2 separate regions of the Homo sapiens genome follow, and region 2 is linked to region 1. The links come from fine-mapping of genetic effects on gene expression. Tissue or cell type: whole blood. Region 1 holds a variant in brackets; the other region holds the start of a gene. All regions are shown on one strand. Distances are from middle to middle.

Region 1 (8,102 bases):
TTTCACCATGTTGGCCAGGCTGATCTCAAACTCCTGACCTCAAACCTCCCAAAGTACTGGGATTACAGACCATGCCCAGCCTCTTTTCACTTTCTTAAATAAGCTCCCCACTGCTTTGAGGATAATGTCCGTGTCTCTTACAAGACTTGGGAGCCTTTAAAACCTGATCCCAGATTAGCTACCTCTTCCCCCCTTTAATTTTATGCTTAGGACAAGCTGAGTTTTTCTTAGTTTGTCATATCCTATTTCCCTGCCTAGAAACCCATCTCCCCCTGCCCTCTTATCAGTTTTTTTTTATAATTTAAATTTTTTTTTTTTTGTAGAGACAAAGTCTCACTTTGTTGCCTAGGCTGGTCTCAAACTCCTGGCCTTAAACGATCCTTCTGCCTCGGACTCCCAAAATGTTAGGATTACAGGTATGAGCCACTGCGCCCGGCCCTCCTGTCCCTTATCTGGGTCTCCCAAAACTGGATTAAGATTAGGTGTCACTCCCATTTGCTCTTGTAGTCCTCTGTGCTTCACCTACTAGATCTCGTCAAATTCTCTGAATTCACCACTAGCATGAACTCCTCCAGAGCAGGAAGCAGTTTAATTATCCTTGTGTCCAAAACAACTAACTGAATACTCCAATGCCCAACTCATTTTGAATGAATGAAGCTGCCTTCATTGCAGGGTCGGGTGGAGGATTTTGAACTCGGAACTTTGGCCTTCAGTCTTTGTTATTACAGTTTAAAGATTCATTCTCGGGCATGGAGGAACAATTTAGGTCAAAATCACAAAAATCTGAAATAATTTAGGACGAGGCGTAAATTTATCTGCAAAGATCAACACGCTCAAACGAATCACTAATGCTCATCAGTCTTTTACTTAAAGCAAACAAGGTGGAGGGTAGCTCCTTGCGAAACCTACCACCTGCCTAAAAGCGCAGTGGCTCGGGTGGTCCAGTCCCGGAGACTTTCTTGGCACTTAAGGCTCTGCCCACGGGCCGCCAAGTGGCGGAAGAGCCTCACGCACGACGTGCCGCCTCACACTCCCGCGGAGGCATCGCGACGCAGCGACGGCGTGGGCGGAGAGGCCGGCCCTTCCTCTGGCGCCTTCGGCTCCTCCCCCTGCGCCTCACACGCTCATTGTGAAGCGACAGCGGCCGCCGGCTTCTAAGGCGGTTTGAGACCTTAAGACCCTAAATCCTTGGCGCGCGTGAGCGCCCGCGCCGCTCCTTACCCACTCCCAGGGCTAGGGGTGCGAGGTTCACCGACTTGATTCTCTCCCACTTTCCCGCCGGGAGCTAACCGCGCCGGTGTGCGCGGCACCTCGCGCCACTGCTCGCTCCTGGCCCCCCCCCCCCCCCCCCCCCCCCGGGAGCTCCCACCCGCGCGCTCCTCCCTCTCCGCTCCCCGGCGACGCGCACGCGCGCCAGCCCGGCTCGCGCCCTCTCGCTTTCCTCCAGCCGCGAGACCCCCTCCCCTTCCGCCTCGCGGCGCTTCCTCGCGCCGCGGTCTTCTCTCTCCACCCCCGACACCGCGGGGCTCCCCCCGCCCGCCCACGGCGGGCCCCGGCTGCCCGATCCCCCTCGCTTCCCGCGCTCTCCAGCGGGGCCCCAGCCCCGGCCCCCTCTCTCCCTCCCTTCTCTCTAATTCCCCTTCCGGACGCTGCCATCATGTTGAAGCCTCAGCCGCTACAACAGCCCTCCCAGCCCCAGCAGCCGCCCCCCACGCAACAGGCCGTGGCCCGTCGGCCCCCCGGGGGCACCAGCCCTCCCAACGGCGGCCTCCCGGGGCCGCTGGCCACCTCTGCGGCTCCTCCCGGGCCTCCAGCGGCCGCCTCCCCCTGCCTGGGGCCTGTGGCCGCTGCCGGGAGCGGGCTCCGCCGGGGAGCCGAAGGCATCTTGGCGCCGCAGCCGCCGCCGCCGCAGCAACACCAGGAGAGGCCGGGGGCAGCCGCCATCGGCAGCGCCAGGTGAGAAGGGTGGGCTCCGGGCGAGGGAGCCGCGGCCACCCAGAGGCTGTGGCTCGGTTCCGGTGGGGCGGACCCCGACCCGGCACCGTCAGGGGCACCGGCTGGGTGGGGAGTCCCCGTGAAGCTGGGGGAGGGCCCCCTCAGGTCCGAACAGGTCGGACGGAAAGGGTCCCCGGGCGGCCACCGGAGCACTGAGGGGCCGCGCTCGGCTCTCGGGGCCTAGTCAGGGCTCGCAGCCCCGGCCTTCAGGGGAGGCGGGGCGCATCCCGCCGGCGCCGTCGGAACGGGGAGTTGGGGGGGGGCAAGGAGCTGATCGGGGTCCCCGGTTCCATTACCACGAAGGGTCTCGCGGTCCCCGGCTTCAGCCAATGGGGAGTCTGCTGCGGGAAGGGGTCCCCGGCCGTAGCCAATGGAGGGGGGCGCGCGGCCCACAGTTTGGCCAATGGGGAGGGAGGGACTTGGGAGCGGGTTGCTGCCTCCCCCTTCCCGGTCTGGCCAGTAGGAGGGGAGCGAGGTGGGCGGGGGGACGGAAGGAGGGATGACTGGGAGGACTGCGGGCCGGGAGCCTCTGGCGCGCGCGCCCCCTTCCCGTACGTGCGCGTGGATGCTCGGTCTCATGACCCGGGCATTCGCGCGCCCCGGGAACACCTAGGGCAGGGACTAGTTCGTGGAGGGGCTCGTCTGGTGGCAGTGCATGAGTAGTGGAGGCCCTGCTCAGTTTTTCCTGTGCGAGTGTGTGTGTGTTAATGGAATTAAGAGTGGCAGCACACGCAGGCGCAGTGGGCTCTGATCGCTGGAGGTGGGGGTTCGGAAAGTCCCGTGGGTTTTAGTGCGCAGGCGCAGACCGGGCGAGGCCTCCCGGTGGATGGCTTTTGCGGCTGCGCTGTCCCCCAGCCCCGCCAGCGGCCCCCTCTTCGCCCTCAACCGCCGGTTACATCAGCCAGCGACGAGCAGGGTTACCTGGCGATTGGTGATCCCCGCAGAGTGGGTAACGGGCTGAATGAGTCATGAGGTCGAGGGGATGGGGTGTGGAGGGGATACCCCTCCTCCCACAGTTTTGAGGCGTCAGGCTGCTGAAAATGATTGTCTTTTCTGTTTGGGAGGTAATGTACCTGAGCTAGGTAGTTCCAAAGCTGCACTCCTGGAGCTTTTGCCCTCACAGCTGGCGTGGCTTTTTGGTTAATACTGTAGCATTGATCTGTTGGTAGCCTGCAGCCCTAGCCCCTTTCTCGTTGGTTCTTAGAGCAATTGACAACCATTGTTGATTGAGATCTTTTTGCTGGCATTTGGAGGAAATGTGTTTGCTGGCTTATTAATGTCTATTTTTTTCTTCCTCTACAAGGTGACAGTTTGAAAATCTTATTTATTGGCCGGGCGCAGTGGCTCACGCCTGTAATGCCAGCACTTTAGGAGGCAAAGGTGGGAGGATCCCTTGAGCCCAAGGAGATCGATACCAGCCTGGGCAACACAGATGGGAAATCCCATCTCTACTAAAAATTAAAAAAAAAAAAAGCCAGGAGTGGTGGTTCGTACCTATAGTCTCAGCCACTCGGGAGGCTGAGGCAGGAAGATCACTTGAGCCTTGGAGGTTGAGGCTACAGTGAACTGAGATCACGCCACTGCACCCCAGCCTGGGCAACAGAGGGAGACCCTGTCTCAAAAAAAATAGAAAAATCTTACTGATTAACAATTTTGTAGTCTAAATCAGCATCATCAGGTGGTATATACTTCTAGGATTTAACATTAATTTCATAGTGGTCTAAGAGGGCTTGAACAGACTTAAGTAATTTCTTGTTTTCTTTTATAGGGGACAGAGCACAGGAAAGGGACCCCCACAGTCACCTGTGAGTGTCTTCTCCCACCCTGTTTAAGATACATAGACCTAAAAGATGCATAATGTGGGAATATAGGGCACATTAGGTCTAGATAGAGTCTAATGTACTCAGGAGGGCTGTGGGCCCGGCACACACAAGGCAGAATGAGTAGAGTGCGGCGGGCATTTAGAAAAGAAAATGAGGTGTTGACTGATTACTCCTTTAATTCTCCCTCTTATGTTAACTGACAGGTGTTTGAAGGCGTCTACAACAATTCCAGAATGCTGCATTTCCTTACAGCTGTTGTGGTAAGTTGGTACTTAACCCCCGGGTTGTTTAAGGAACGTAATGCATCTACTTTCTGGAGACACTCTTCTTATTTTTCCCACTCTGCCAGGGCTCCACTTGTGATGTAAAGGTGAAAAATGGTACCACTTATGAGGGTATCTTCAAGACGCTAAGCTCAAAGGTCAGTGTACTCAAATTTAATTATTTTTGGAGTTGCAGAGTAGGAGGAGAATGAAATAGGCTCATTGAAGGTGTCAATTGGGTGATGTCAGAGTATGCCTTTAGTTGTTTCTGTAGGCCTGTGCTGAATAGTGCTGCAGGGAAAAAAGACAAATTTGAGGGCTGGGTACTTT[A/T]ATGTTAAAATATTTAAGTTTAAATTTTTGTGAGACTTTTGCTAAGTCCTGTGGCTGATGTTGAGAAAACAATGCACTTGGTTCCAAGCATGTTGAGGATGTAGTGTTGTGAAAAGTTTGGGAAGGGTAAGAGAAATCCAGTTCTATTTAAGAGAAATCCAGTTCTATTTTTGCCTTCACTTTTCTTGAAACTGACCCATGGGTGTGGGGAATGGGGTGTTTGTAGTTTGAACTAGCCGTGGATGCTGTGCACCGGAAAGCATCTGAGCCAGCAGGTGGCCCTCGTCGGGAGGACATTGTGGACACCATGGTGTTTAAGCCAAGTGATGTCATGCTTGTTCACTTCCGAAATGTTGACTTCAACTATGCTACTAAAGGTATTGTCCTAGGCTGTTACCTCAGACCTGCTCTGTGTGCATAGAGGACAGAGGGTAGTTTGTGTGCAGGTGGAACATGGTGATGTGTTTGGTTTGTTTTTTTGTTTTTGTTTGTTTGTTTTGCTTTAATGCCTTTTTTTTCCTGAGCGAAGTGGGTGGATTTTTCTTCTTAAAAATATGTCTTGATGTCTAATATATAATGCGATGAATTCCTGTCTGTGTTGTGGTTCTTCATATTTTCTTTGCTTGGTTTTTAACTTCTTTTTTCTTTGGAATCATAGTACTGATAGACTTTTTATACTCTTCTTCTCTTGCCTCCCCACCCCCTGGCCATCCTAACACACGGGCACACGTACTCTGGACTTCTTAAACTTTGTTCCTGAACTACTTACGGAGAGTGGGGTTGGGGGATATTGGAAAGAAGTCTGTGAAATATAGCCTGACTCCTGATCTTCACCTCTGCCCCCACAGACAAGTTCACCGATTCAGCCATTGCCATGAACTCGAAAGTGAATGGGGAACACAAAGAGAAGGTGCTTCAGCGCTGGGAGGGGGGTGACAGCAACAGCGACGACTATGACCTCGAGTCTGACATGGTATAGCCTCCTTCCCTGAGAACTTGGGAGCTGGACAGACAGAATGGGTTGTTGACAGTGAGGTTCATTTGAGTGGGGAGGGAAATATTTACTGTTGCCCATTGATGGTAGTCAGATAACAAATAGAAAGGTATAGAAAATAGCAAAGTAAAAATATCTATTCTTAGCTGGGTGCAGTGGCTCATGTTTGTAATCCCAGCACTTTGGGAGGCCAAGGCCGGTGGGTCACTTGAGGCAAGGATTTCGAGACCAGTCTGGGCAACATGGTGAAACCCTGTCTCAACAAGATATATAAAAGCTATCAAGGTTTGGTGGCATGTACCTGTAGTCCCAGCTACTTGGGAGGCTGAAGTGGAAGGATCACTTGAGCCCAGGGAGGTCGAGGCTACAGTGAGCTGTGATCATACCACTGCACTCCAGCCTGGGTGGACCGTGTCACACGCAACAAAACCAAAACATCAACTTACTCTCTTACTATCTATAATTAACCACTCCTAGCATTTGCATCACGTTATTTTTCAACATAACAAAAAGTATAGATTAATGTGTAGGCCCATTTCTCTTCCCAAAATCAGCTACTCTGAGGCATTTAAAATCTCATGAGGCTGAGCGCAGTGGCTCATGCCTGTAGTCCCAGCTACTTGGGAGGCCAAGGCAGGAGCTCCGATCACTTGAGCCCAGGAGTTTGAGGCTGCTGTAAGCTGAGATTGTGCCACTGGACTCCAGTCTGAGCGACAGTGAGGATGTCTCAAAAAAATAAATAAAAACCGCTCATGAATAGAGCTGAGCGTGGTGGTCCCACACCTGTAGTCCCAGCTACTCAGGAGGCTGAGGTAGGAGAATCATTTGAAGCTTTGGTGCACTATGACTCAACTTGTGAATGGCCACTGTGCTCCAGCCTGGGCATCATAGCGAGACTATCTGTTGAGAAACAAATGTCTTGTGAATGAATATATTATTGTTTTGTTATGTTTAGTTTGTACAAGAATTTGCTTTTCTTGCCTTTTCGAACTTCTCATGGTTGTACGTAGATCTAGTTCTTTGCTTCTATTGTTGTGTGCTGTTTTCAAATATACACACACACGTGTACACAGCAAATTGTATTTGTCCTTTTCCTTAATCATCTGCATTTGGTTGCCATTATTTTGCTACTAAAAATAGTACCTTGCTGGACTTTTAGAACATATATTCCCCACGCACATGTGCCAGAATTTTTCTGGGATGTCTTGGAAATAGAATTGTTAGGTCTTATGACTTTTCAGGTTTACTAGTTATTGATAATTTCTGCTGCAGTTGTTAGTAATCATTAACAGTTGCAGGCCGGGCGCGGTGGCTCACACCAGTAATCCCAGCACTTTGGGAGGCCAAGGCGGGCAGATCACCTGAGGTTGGGAGTTTGGAACTAGCCTGACCAACGTGGAGAAGCCCCATCTCTACTAAAAATACAAAATTAGCTGGGCGTGGTGGCACATGCCCGTAATCCCAGCTACTCGTGAGGTTGAGGCAGGAGAATCGCTTGAACCCAAGGAGACGGAGGTTGCGGTGAGCCAAGATCGCACCATTGCACTCCAGCCTGGGCAACAAGAGTGAAACTCTTTGTCTCCAAAAAAAAAAAAAAAATTGCAGTTATTAATTACAATTATTAGTTGATTACTTTTGCCAGCCACGTTCCAATTTTTTTTCCACTCTTGTTTTGTCGTTTATTTTTGAGACGAGCTTGCTCTGTTGCCCGGGTTTTTGTTGTAGTTGTTTGTTTTTGTTTTTGTTTTTGTTTTTTTTGGAGACAGGGTCTCACTCTGTCACTCAGGCTGGAGGCTGGAGTGCAGTGGCTCGATCTCAGCTCACTGCAACCTCTGCCTCCCAGGTTCAAGCGATTCTTCTGCCTCAGCCAGGACTGCAGGCATGCGCCACCACGGATGGCTAATTTTTTATTTTTAGTAGAGACGGGGTTTCACCATGTTGGTCAGGTTGATCTCCTGACCTCAGGTGATCCACCCACCTCCCAAAGTGCTGGGATTACAGGCATGAGCCACCACGCCCAGCTAGTCGCCCAGGCCAGAGCGCAGTGGTGCCATAATAATTCACTGCAGCCTCAAACTCCTGGGCTCAAGTGATCCTCTCTCCTCAATCTCCTGAGTAGCGAGTAGCTAGGACCCCAGGCATGCACCACCACACCCGGCTGTTTCATTATTTTTTTCTAGAGATGAGCTCTTGCTGTGTTGCCCAGTCTGGCCTTAAACTCCTGGCCTCAGGAGAGCCTCCTGCCTCAGCTTCCCAAAGTACTGGGATTACAGGTTTCAGCCACTGTGCCCAGCCAATTTGTTCACATCTTGGAGTTTTTAACCTGATGGAAGGGAAGTGACTTGTCGTTGCTTTTCCTGCTGGGTTTTAAAACCACCTTCCTCCCTCCCCAGTCCAATGGATGGGACCCCAATGAAATGTTCAAGTTCAATGAGGAGAACTACGGTGTGAAGACTACCTATGATAGCAGTCTTTCTTCTTATACGTGAGTATCTTGGTGCTCTCCAGGTGATGTGTTGGTGATATGGGGTCACTAAGTGAAGACAGGTTTCCAGGTAGAACATAGTTTTTGCTCATTTTTCTCTGGGTGTCCAGGGTCGCCATCCCTACTCCTACTCTGCCTTGTGGAATTCTTCCCTCAAAGGTTTTAAGCGTCTTAAGTGCTTCTCACATTCCCAGATAAGCCTTGGTGCTCTA
Region 2 (8,088 bases), 120 kb after region 1:
GTGGGAAGAGTGAAGTGTTGAAGGGGCGTGTTTGTGTTGTGTTGGGATATATGTTGTGCAGGAGTTGCCAACGCTGTGGATGTGTGGAGGGCGTGTAGTCTCTGAGGTGCACAATATTGTTGGTAGGAGGTGTTGGCGAGTGTGTTTGGGAAATATAATTAAGAAACAAAATATCTAAACCCAACAAACTTCTCCACAAAGGTAGTAGAGACAGAAAACAGTTTTATTATTATTTTTGGTTAAAAAGTTGTAAAATGGGCCTGGCGTGATGGCTCACGCCTGTAATCCCAGCACTTTGGGTGGCTGAGGCGGGCGGCTCACCTGAGGTTGGGAGTTCGAGACCAGCCTGACCAACATGGTGAAACTCCATCTCTACTAAAAGTACAAAAAATTAGCCAGGCGTGGTGGCGCATGTCTGTAATCCCAGCTACTCAGGAGGCTGAGGCAGGAGAATCGCTTGAACCCGGGAGGTGGAGGTTGCAGTGATCCAAGATTGTGCCACTGCACTCCAGCCTGGGCAACAAGAGTGGAACTCCATCTCAAAAAAAAAAAAGTTTTAAAATGTATTATTATTTTTCGTAGAGTTGGGGGTTTTACTATATTGCCTAGGCGGGTCTTAACGCTCAGCCTGAAGTGATCCTCCCACCTTGGCCTCCCAAAGTGCTGGGATTACAGACGTGAACCACTGTGCCTGGCCTTAAATTGTATGTATTTATTTATTTTTAGAGAGAGGGTCTTGCTCTGTTGCCCAGGCTCGAGTGAAGTGGTGAGATCATAGCTCACTGCAGCCTTGAACTCCTGGGCTCAATCAGCCTCCCAAGTAGCTAGGACTACAGGTGTGCATCACGACACCCACTAATTATTATTACTTTTTGTAGAGACAGGGTCTTGCTATATTGCCCAGGCTGGCCTTGAACCCTAGACCTCAAGTGATCCTCCCACCTCAGGCTCCCAGTGCTGGGATTACAGGCATAAGCCAACATGCCCGGGCTGGTTTTATTATTGAATAAGCATAATTTTTCTTTCTTTTTTGACATGGAGTTTCACTCTTGTTGCCCATGCTGGAGTGCAATGGCACAATCTCAGCTCACTGGAACCTCTGCCTCCCGGGTTCAAGTGATCCTCCTGCCTCAGGCTCCGGAGTAGTTGGGATTACAGGTGCCCACCACAATGCCTGGCTAATTTTTTGTATTTTTAGTAGAAAAATACACCACCATATTGGCCAGGCTGGTCTCGAACTCCTGACCTCAGGTGATCCAACCACCTCAGCCTCCCAAAGTACTGGGATTAGAGGCGTGAGCCACTGCACCCGGCTTGAATAAGCATTAAGTTAGAATGTGATGCACATCACTGGCAATCTGGTAAAAGATTGCAAAGGCAAAAAGAAATATCCTTCATTACAGCCAAGCAGGTGTAAACCATTATCCTGTTTTCAAGATAAAATTTCAAATTCCATATTGTTACAGGAGCTGCAGGTTCATATGCCCACTGTGCAGTCACAGCTCTGTGACTCTGAGACGGTGGGGATGCAGCAGAGAGAGTTTAATGATTGCAGGGTGCCGAGCGAGGTGATGGGAGGAGACCCTCAAATCTCTCTCCAGGGAGTTCTGGGCTGGGCTTTTAAGGGGTTTGTGGGGAGTGATGGGCTGGAATATTGGGGTCATTGATTGGTTGGGAAGGGGGATGAAATTGTCAGGGTGTAGAAGCTGCATTTTGCGGGGAGTCAGCTCCTTGTGGGGTCCTTCAGGTCAGCTGAATCAGTAGTTCCATCAAGACCTGAAGGAATATCTCAAAGGGAACACCTAATGTAATGTCCAAGCCGTGATTCAAGAGCAGTTAAGGGGAACTATAATCTTCTGACAGGGGCTGTGTGACTGTGGGGCAACAGGCACCAGATGGCTTTGGGGAAGCAGGTCAGGGAGCAGCTGCCCTGAGATCAATGCTGAGTGCACCGCAAGTTTGGTTTCTTTTCATTTCTCCCTCTCCCTTCTTCTCAAGTTTATAGGGGTGGTTGCAATACCATGTTTTCAAGATAAACAATGACTAGTCCTCACGTAAGAGGACGTGACAACACCTTTAGTCAAACATAGTTCAGCCTTTTTTTTTTTTTTTTTTTTTTGAGACGGAGTCTCGCTCTGTCGCCCAGGCTGGAGTGCAGTGGTGCAATCTCGGCTCACTGCAACCTGCGCCTCCTGGGTTCATGCCATGCTCCTGCCTCAGCCTCCCGAGTAGCTGGGACTACAGGCGCCCGCCACCACGCCCAGCTAATTTTTTGTATTTTTTAGTAGAGACAGGGTTTCACTGTGTTAGCCAGGATGGTCTCAATCTCTGGACCTTGTCATCCGCCCGCCTTGGCCTCCCAAAGTGCTGGGATTACAGGTATGGGCCATCGCGCCTGGCTTTTTTTTTTTTCTTTTGCAACAGAGTCTGGCTCTGTCTCCCAGGCTGGAGGGCAATGGCTCGATCTCGGGTCACTGCAACCTCCACCTCCTGGGTTCAACTGATCCTCCTGCCTCAGCCTCCCAAGTAGCTAGGAATACAGGCGCACACCACCATGCCCAGCTAATTTTGTTTTGTATTTTAGTAGAGATGGGGTTTCACCATGTTGGCCAGGCTGGTCTCGAACTCCTGACCTCAAGTGATCCACCCGCCTCGGCCTCCCAAAGTGCTGGGATTACAGGCGTGAGCCACCACGCCTGGCCCCAGTCTAACTTTATGATGGTAAGTGGGGTGACCACCTGTGTTATTGAATTGGCTTGTATGGTAGGGGTGAGTAGACACAAACTTTTCATATCTTTAGGACAGGAGGTAGCCTGCATCTTGGAGCAAGACTGAAGCCAAGCTTTTCCCTCCTAGGGGAAATGGGAGACAAGAGAGCTAACTGCCTTGACGACGGCATTTCGTCAGGGCTCCCAGGTCCTTGAATTCCTGAATTTGGAGACTGGCAAGTGGCTTATGTAGCCATCATGAAGATTTACATATGCCAGGCTGGGTGCTGTGGCTCACACCTGTAATCCCCGCACTTTGGGAGGCCGAGCCAGGTGGATCACTTGAGGTCAGGAGTTCAAGACCGGCCTGGGCAACATGGTGAAACCCCGTCTCTACTAAAAATACAAAAATTAGCTGGGCAAGGTGGCAGGCAACAGTAATCCCAGCTACTCGGGAAGCTGAGGCAAGAGAATCCTTTGAACCCTGAAGGTGGAGGTTGCAATGAGCTGAGATCGCACCATTGCACTCCAGCCTGGGCAACAGAGCAAAACTCCGAATCAAGAAAAAGAAAAAAATAAAATAAATAGTCGGGCGCAGTGGCTCACGCCTGTAATCCCAGCACTTTGGGAGGCCAAGGCGGGGGCGGAGGGGGGTGGATCACCTGAGGTCAGGAGTTCAAGACCAGCCTGACCAACATGGTGAGACCCCATCTCCACTAAAAATACAAAATTAGCTGGGCATGGTAGTGCACGCCTGTAATCAATCCCAGCTACTTGGAGACTGAGGCACGAGAATTGCTTGAATCTGGGAGGCAGAGGTTGCAGTGAACCGAGATCGAGCCATTGCACTCCAGCCTGGGCAATAAGAGCGAAACTCCATCTCAAAATAAATAAATAAATAAAATTAAATAAATGAATAAAATAAAATTTAAAAATAAATAAATACATAAGATTTTTTTTTGAGATGGAGTCTCACTCTGTTGCCCAGGCTGGAGTGCAGTGGTACAATCTTGGCTCAGTGCAACCTCTGCCTCCTGGGTTCCAGCGATTCTCCTGCCTCAGCCTCCCGAGTAGCTGAGATTATAGGCGCCTGCCACTACGCCTGTCTAATTTTTGTATTTTAGTAGAGACAGGGTTTTACCATGTTGGTCAGGCTGGTCTCGAACTCCTGACCTCAGGTGATCTGCCCACCTCGGCCTCCCAAAGTGCTGGATTATAGGCGTGAGCCACCACGCCCAGCCTTATTATTTCTATCTTTCTTTCTTTTTTTGAGAGAGAGTCTCGCTCTGTCGGCCAGGCTGGAGTGCAGCGGCAGGATCTGGCTCACTGTAACCTCTGCCTCCCGGGCTCAAGCAATTCTCCTGCCTCAGCCTCCTGAGTAGCTGGGATTACAGGCGCACGCCACCACGCCCGCCTAATTTTTGTATTTTTAGTAGAGACGGGGTTTCACCGTGTTGGCCAGGCTGGTCTTGAACTTCTGACCTCGTGATTCGCCTGCCTCGGCCTCCCAAAGTGCTGGGATTACAGGCGTGAGCCACCGCGCGCGGCCAGCCTTATTATTTCTTTAAAGCATTTTTGAGACAGGGTCTCGCCCTGTCACCCAGGCTGGGGTGCAGTGGTGCGATCTCCGCCTCCCGGGCTCCAGCGAAACTCCCACCTCAGCCTCCTGAGTAGTTGGGACCACAGAGGGGTGCCACCACGCCCGGGTAATTTTTGCATTCTTAGTAGAGACGCGGTTTCGCCACATTGGCCAGGCTGGTCTCAAACTCCTGAGCTCAACCAATCTGCCCGCCTCAGCCTTTCAAAGTGCCAGGATTACGGGCGTGAGGCACCGCGCCTGGTTAAATCCGCGGTTTCCACAGGGAATTCCAGGCCCGCCTTCCTTCTCCCGGAAACCTTACCGCTCGAGGACTACATTTCCCAGGATGCCCTGCGACTAACCAAGCCGGAAGACGGTTGTCTTGGTTGGGCGGGTCCGGGAGAGGCTCGTCTGTGGAGAGGTGGCCCAGCCAATGGGTGAGGCCGACTGAATCGAAAGCTACGGTGATTGTGCCGAGGTGATTGGAATCTTTGGCGCCTTGGTTTCAGAGGTGGGCGCATGATGAGCGGGTACAGAGACCAATGAAAAGGCGGGAAGGCGGATCCCGCGCGTGGGGCGCGAAGAGTTGCTGACGAGCAGGCTGTTTGTCCAATGCAAGGCGAAAGTCGCTGAAGGGGGCGGGGCGAGGCGAGAGGAGGCGGGCGTGTGTTGTGGAGGAAAGTGTGCCATGGCGGAGCCTGTGGGGAAGCGGGGCCGCTGGTCCGGAGGTAGCGGTGCCGGCCGAGGGGGTCGGGGCGGCTGGGGCGGTCGGGGCCGGCGTCCTCGGGCCCAGCGGTCTCCATCCCGGGGCACGCTGGACGTAGTGTCTGTGGACTTGGTCACCGACAGCGATGAGGAAATTCTGGAGGTCGCCACCGCTCGCGGTGCCGCGGACGAGGTTGAGGTGGAGCCCCCGGAGCCCCCGGGGCCGGTCGCGTCCCGGGATAACAGCAACAGTGACAGCGAAGGGGAGGACAGGCGGCCCGCAGGACCCCCGCGGGAGCCGGTCAGGCGGCGGCGGCGGCTGGTGCTGGATCCGGGGGAGGCGCCGCTGGTTCCGGTGTACTCGGGGAAGGTGCGCCCGGTCCCGGGGAGGGGACCGGCGGAAGGGCCAAGGGCTTGGCCTCCAGGGAGGGGCCGGCGTTCGGGGAGGGTAGGGCTATAGGGGTGTTGAGGCTGGCGTTCTGGGGCTGGTCCTCGGGCGTTAGGGTGTTGGAGGCAGGGAGAGGCAGGGCTCCGGGACTTTCTGCAGACTGGGGTGGTGAAGGAGGGTGGGATGCGTTGGAAGTTTAGGATTCCTAGGAGCTAGAGTCTTGGGGGCACAGGGAGGCTGAAGAGCTGGGATTCCTGAGATTTTGGAGAGGGACTGGGAGGACCTGGGGCCGTTGGATTTTGAGGTTGGGGTCCATGGCAAATGAAGCCAGGGAGCTGCAGTATTGGGGGTTGGGGTCCATGCGGGTTCAGAGAGGACTGGGCGGCTCCAGAGGCTGGGGTCCCCCGATGGTCGTGTGAGCAATGGGCTGAGAGTCCCTAAGAGTCAGGGGTAGAGGGGCGGCTAGTAACCTAGTTAAAAAGGGCAAGGAAGCATACATTTCAGAGTGTCTTAGGCAGATGGAGGAAAGGGTGAAGGGTACTTCCATTCTGAATCCTGGGGAAGCTGGACTTCTAGGTTGCCAGGAGAGGGCCAAGGTGTCCACGATCTTAGGGAGGATTTGGGAGCTGGGTGTCAGGGAAGAATTACCCCCAATTTTTTCTTTCGGTAGGGGAAGGACTTGGGCCTGACCCCTCTCCCTTCTTTGTCTTTGCAGGTTAAAAGCAGCCTTCGCCTTATCCCAGATGATCTATCCCTCCTGAAACTCTACCCTCCAGGGGATGAGGAAGGTAAGGGAGGGCCTCCAGGGAGAGGCACGCAGCCGCTGGCTTCTCTTAAGAGAATTCCTGGGGTTTATATTCCTGCAGTCAGTTGTCTCCTGAGGCTCAAGGGAAGAGCGTGGGAGAGGGGACTCCTGCATCCCAGCCACAGGAGCTGGATTGTTAACAAGCATAGAATGTATTAATGTATACATTTCTGGTGCCACCTGAAGAGATGCTGATTCTGTAGTCCTGGGCGGGGCAGGAGGCGGTAAGGTGTTGAGAATCTGTGACATCTTGTTACATCTGCAGCAAGTTCTTTGGGAACACTGGAGCCAGCAGGGTGTTCTCTGAATCTTATCAGGGATGCCCTGTCTTTGTCCTCCCCCACTGATGCATTTTTTGCAAACAACTCAAGGGCGGGGAATAGGAATCTAGTCTAATAAGGAAATAATCCAGTGGGCAAATGGAGACCTTGGACCAAGACTCTTGTACCATGAGGGAGTACAGTGGGGTGATTAAAAGCAAACAGGAGCCATCTGGCCTGGGTTTGAATCTCAGTTCTCTCTTTTTTTTTTTTTTTTTTAGACAGAGTTTCGCTTTTGTTGCCCAAGCTGGAGTGCAATGGCACGATCTCGGCTCGCTGCAACCTCCACCTCCTGGGTTCAAGCGATTCTCCTGCCTCAGCCTTCCCAGTAGCTGACTAATTCCCACCACGCCTGGCTAATTTTTTGTATTTTTAATAGAGATGGGGTTTCACCATGTTGGCCTGGCTGGTCTTGAACTCCTGACCTCAGGTGATCCGCCCATCTTAGCTTCCCAAATTGCTGGGATTACAGGCGTGAGCCACTGTGCCCGGCCTCAGCTCTATCTCTTAATAGCTGTGTGATCTTAGGCGAGTTTCTTTTTTCTTGTTTTGAGACAGAGTCTCACTCTGTCACCCAGGGTGGAGTGTAGTGGCGCAATCTTAGCTCACTGCAACCTCCATCTCCCAGGTTGAAGCCATTCTCCTGCCTCAGCCTCCCGAGTAGCAGGGATTACAGGCGCCCGCCACCATGTCTGGCTTTTTTGTATTTTTAGTAGAGATGGGGTTTCATCATGTTGGCCAGGCTGATCTCGAACTCCTGACCTTAGGTGATCTGTCTGCCTTGGTCACCCAAAGTGCTGGGATTACAGGCGTGAGCCACCACGCCCAGCCTGGGCAAGTTTCTTAATTTCTCAGTGCTTCAATTTCCTCATTATCAAAGTGGGGATAATAGTAGACCCCATTTTGGTGCTGATTTTGGTGAGAATTAACGAAAGGGAATATAGAGAGAGCTGCCTCTTGGCTAGATATATGCTTTAGGACAGTACCTAGGACACAGAAGTGCTACGTAAAAGGTACCTCTATCCCTGATACTCAAAACGTGGGCCCAGCCATATATGGCATCCGTTGGAAGCTTGCTAGAAATGCAGGATCGGCTGGGCACAATGGCTCAAAGTGCTGTAATCCCAGCACTTTGGGAGGCTGAGATGGGAGGATTGCTTGAGCCCAGGAGTTCGAGACCAGCCTGCGCAACATGATGAGACCCTGTTTCTACAGAAAAATAAAAAATTAACCAGGCATGGTGATGTGTACTTGTAGTCCTAGCTACTCAGGAGGCTGAGGTGGGAGAAACACCTGAGCCCAGGAAGTCGAGGCTGCAGTGAGCCATGATCATGCCACTGCACTCCAACCTGGGTGACACAGTAGGACCTGGTCTCAAAAAAAAAAAAAGAAAAACGAAATGCAGAATCATAGGCCTCTTGCAGCTGCCATAGTTAGTTAGGACAGGATTTCATGACTTCAGCATTACTGGCATTTTTTGGACTGGAAAATTCTTTGGTGTTGGAAACTGTCCTGTGCATTGTAGAAAGTTTAGCGGCATCCTGACTTCCATCCCTGGGAAGTATTATACCTCAGCCCCCTCG

What was found. PIP is the estimated chance that this variant, and not a neighbour inherited with it, causes the effect.
Region 2: NFATC2IP starts here. The variant in region 1 is fine-mapped to the expression of NFATC2IP in whole blood (INTERVAL, PIP above 0.99).

The regions. Positions count from the first base shown.
Region 1 is chr16:28,821,603-28,829,704 of GRCh38, forward strand. ATXN2L (ataxin 2 like) reads left to right here and starts at 1,397. Exons shown (of 22, transcript NM_007245.4): 1 at 1,397-1,956; 2 at 3,764-3,800; 3 at 4,022-4,078; 4 at 4,168-4,239; 5 at 4,638-4,788; 6 at 5,260-5,384; 7 at 7,799-7,890. The coding sequence starts at 1,658. LOC124903672 (a long non-coding RNA gene) reads right to left here and starts at 2,440. Exons shown (of 2, transcript XR_007065042.1): 1 at 2,292-2,440. RefSeq lists enhancers at 676-1,412, 924-1,133 and a silencer at 1,454-2,603. The variant A/T (reference allele first, on the strand shown) is at 4,412.
Region 2 is chr16:28,946,037-28,954,124 of GRCh38, forward strand. NFATC2IP (nuclear factor of activated T cells 2 interacting protein) reads left to right here and starts at 4,901. Exons shown (of 8, transcript NM_032815.4): 1 at 4,901-5,362; 2 at 6,096-6,168. The coding sequence starts at 4,976. It overlaps NFATC2IP-AS1 (NFATC2IP antisense RNA 1), which reads right to left. Exons shown (of 2, transcript NR_186408.1): 2 at 6,866-8,088. RefSeq lists enhancers at 4,223-4,757, 4,777-5,277 and silencers at 4,997-5,096, 5,237-5,356.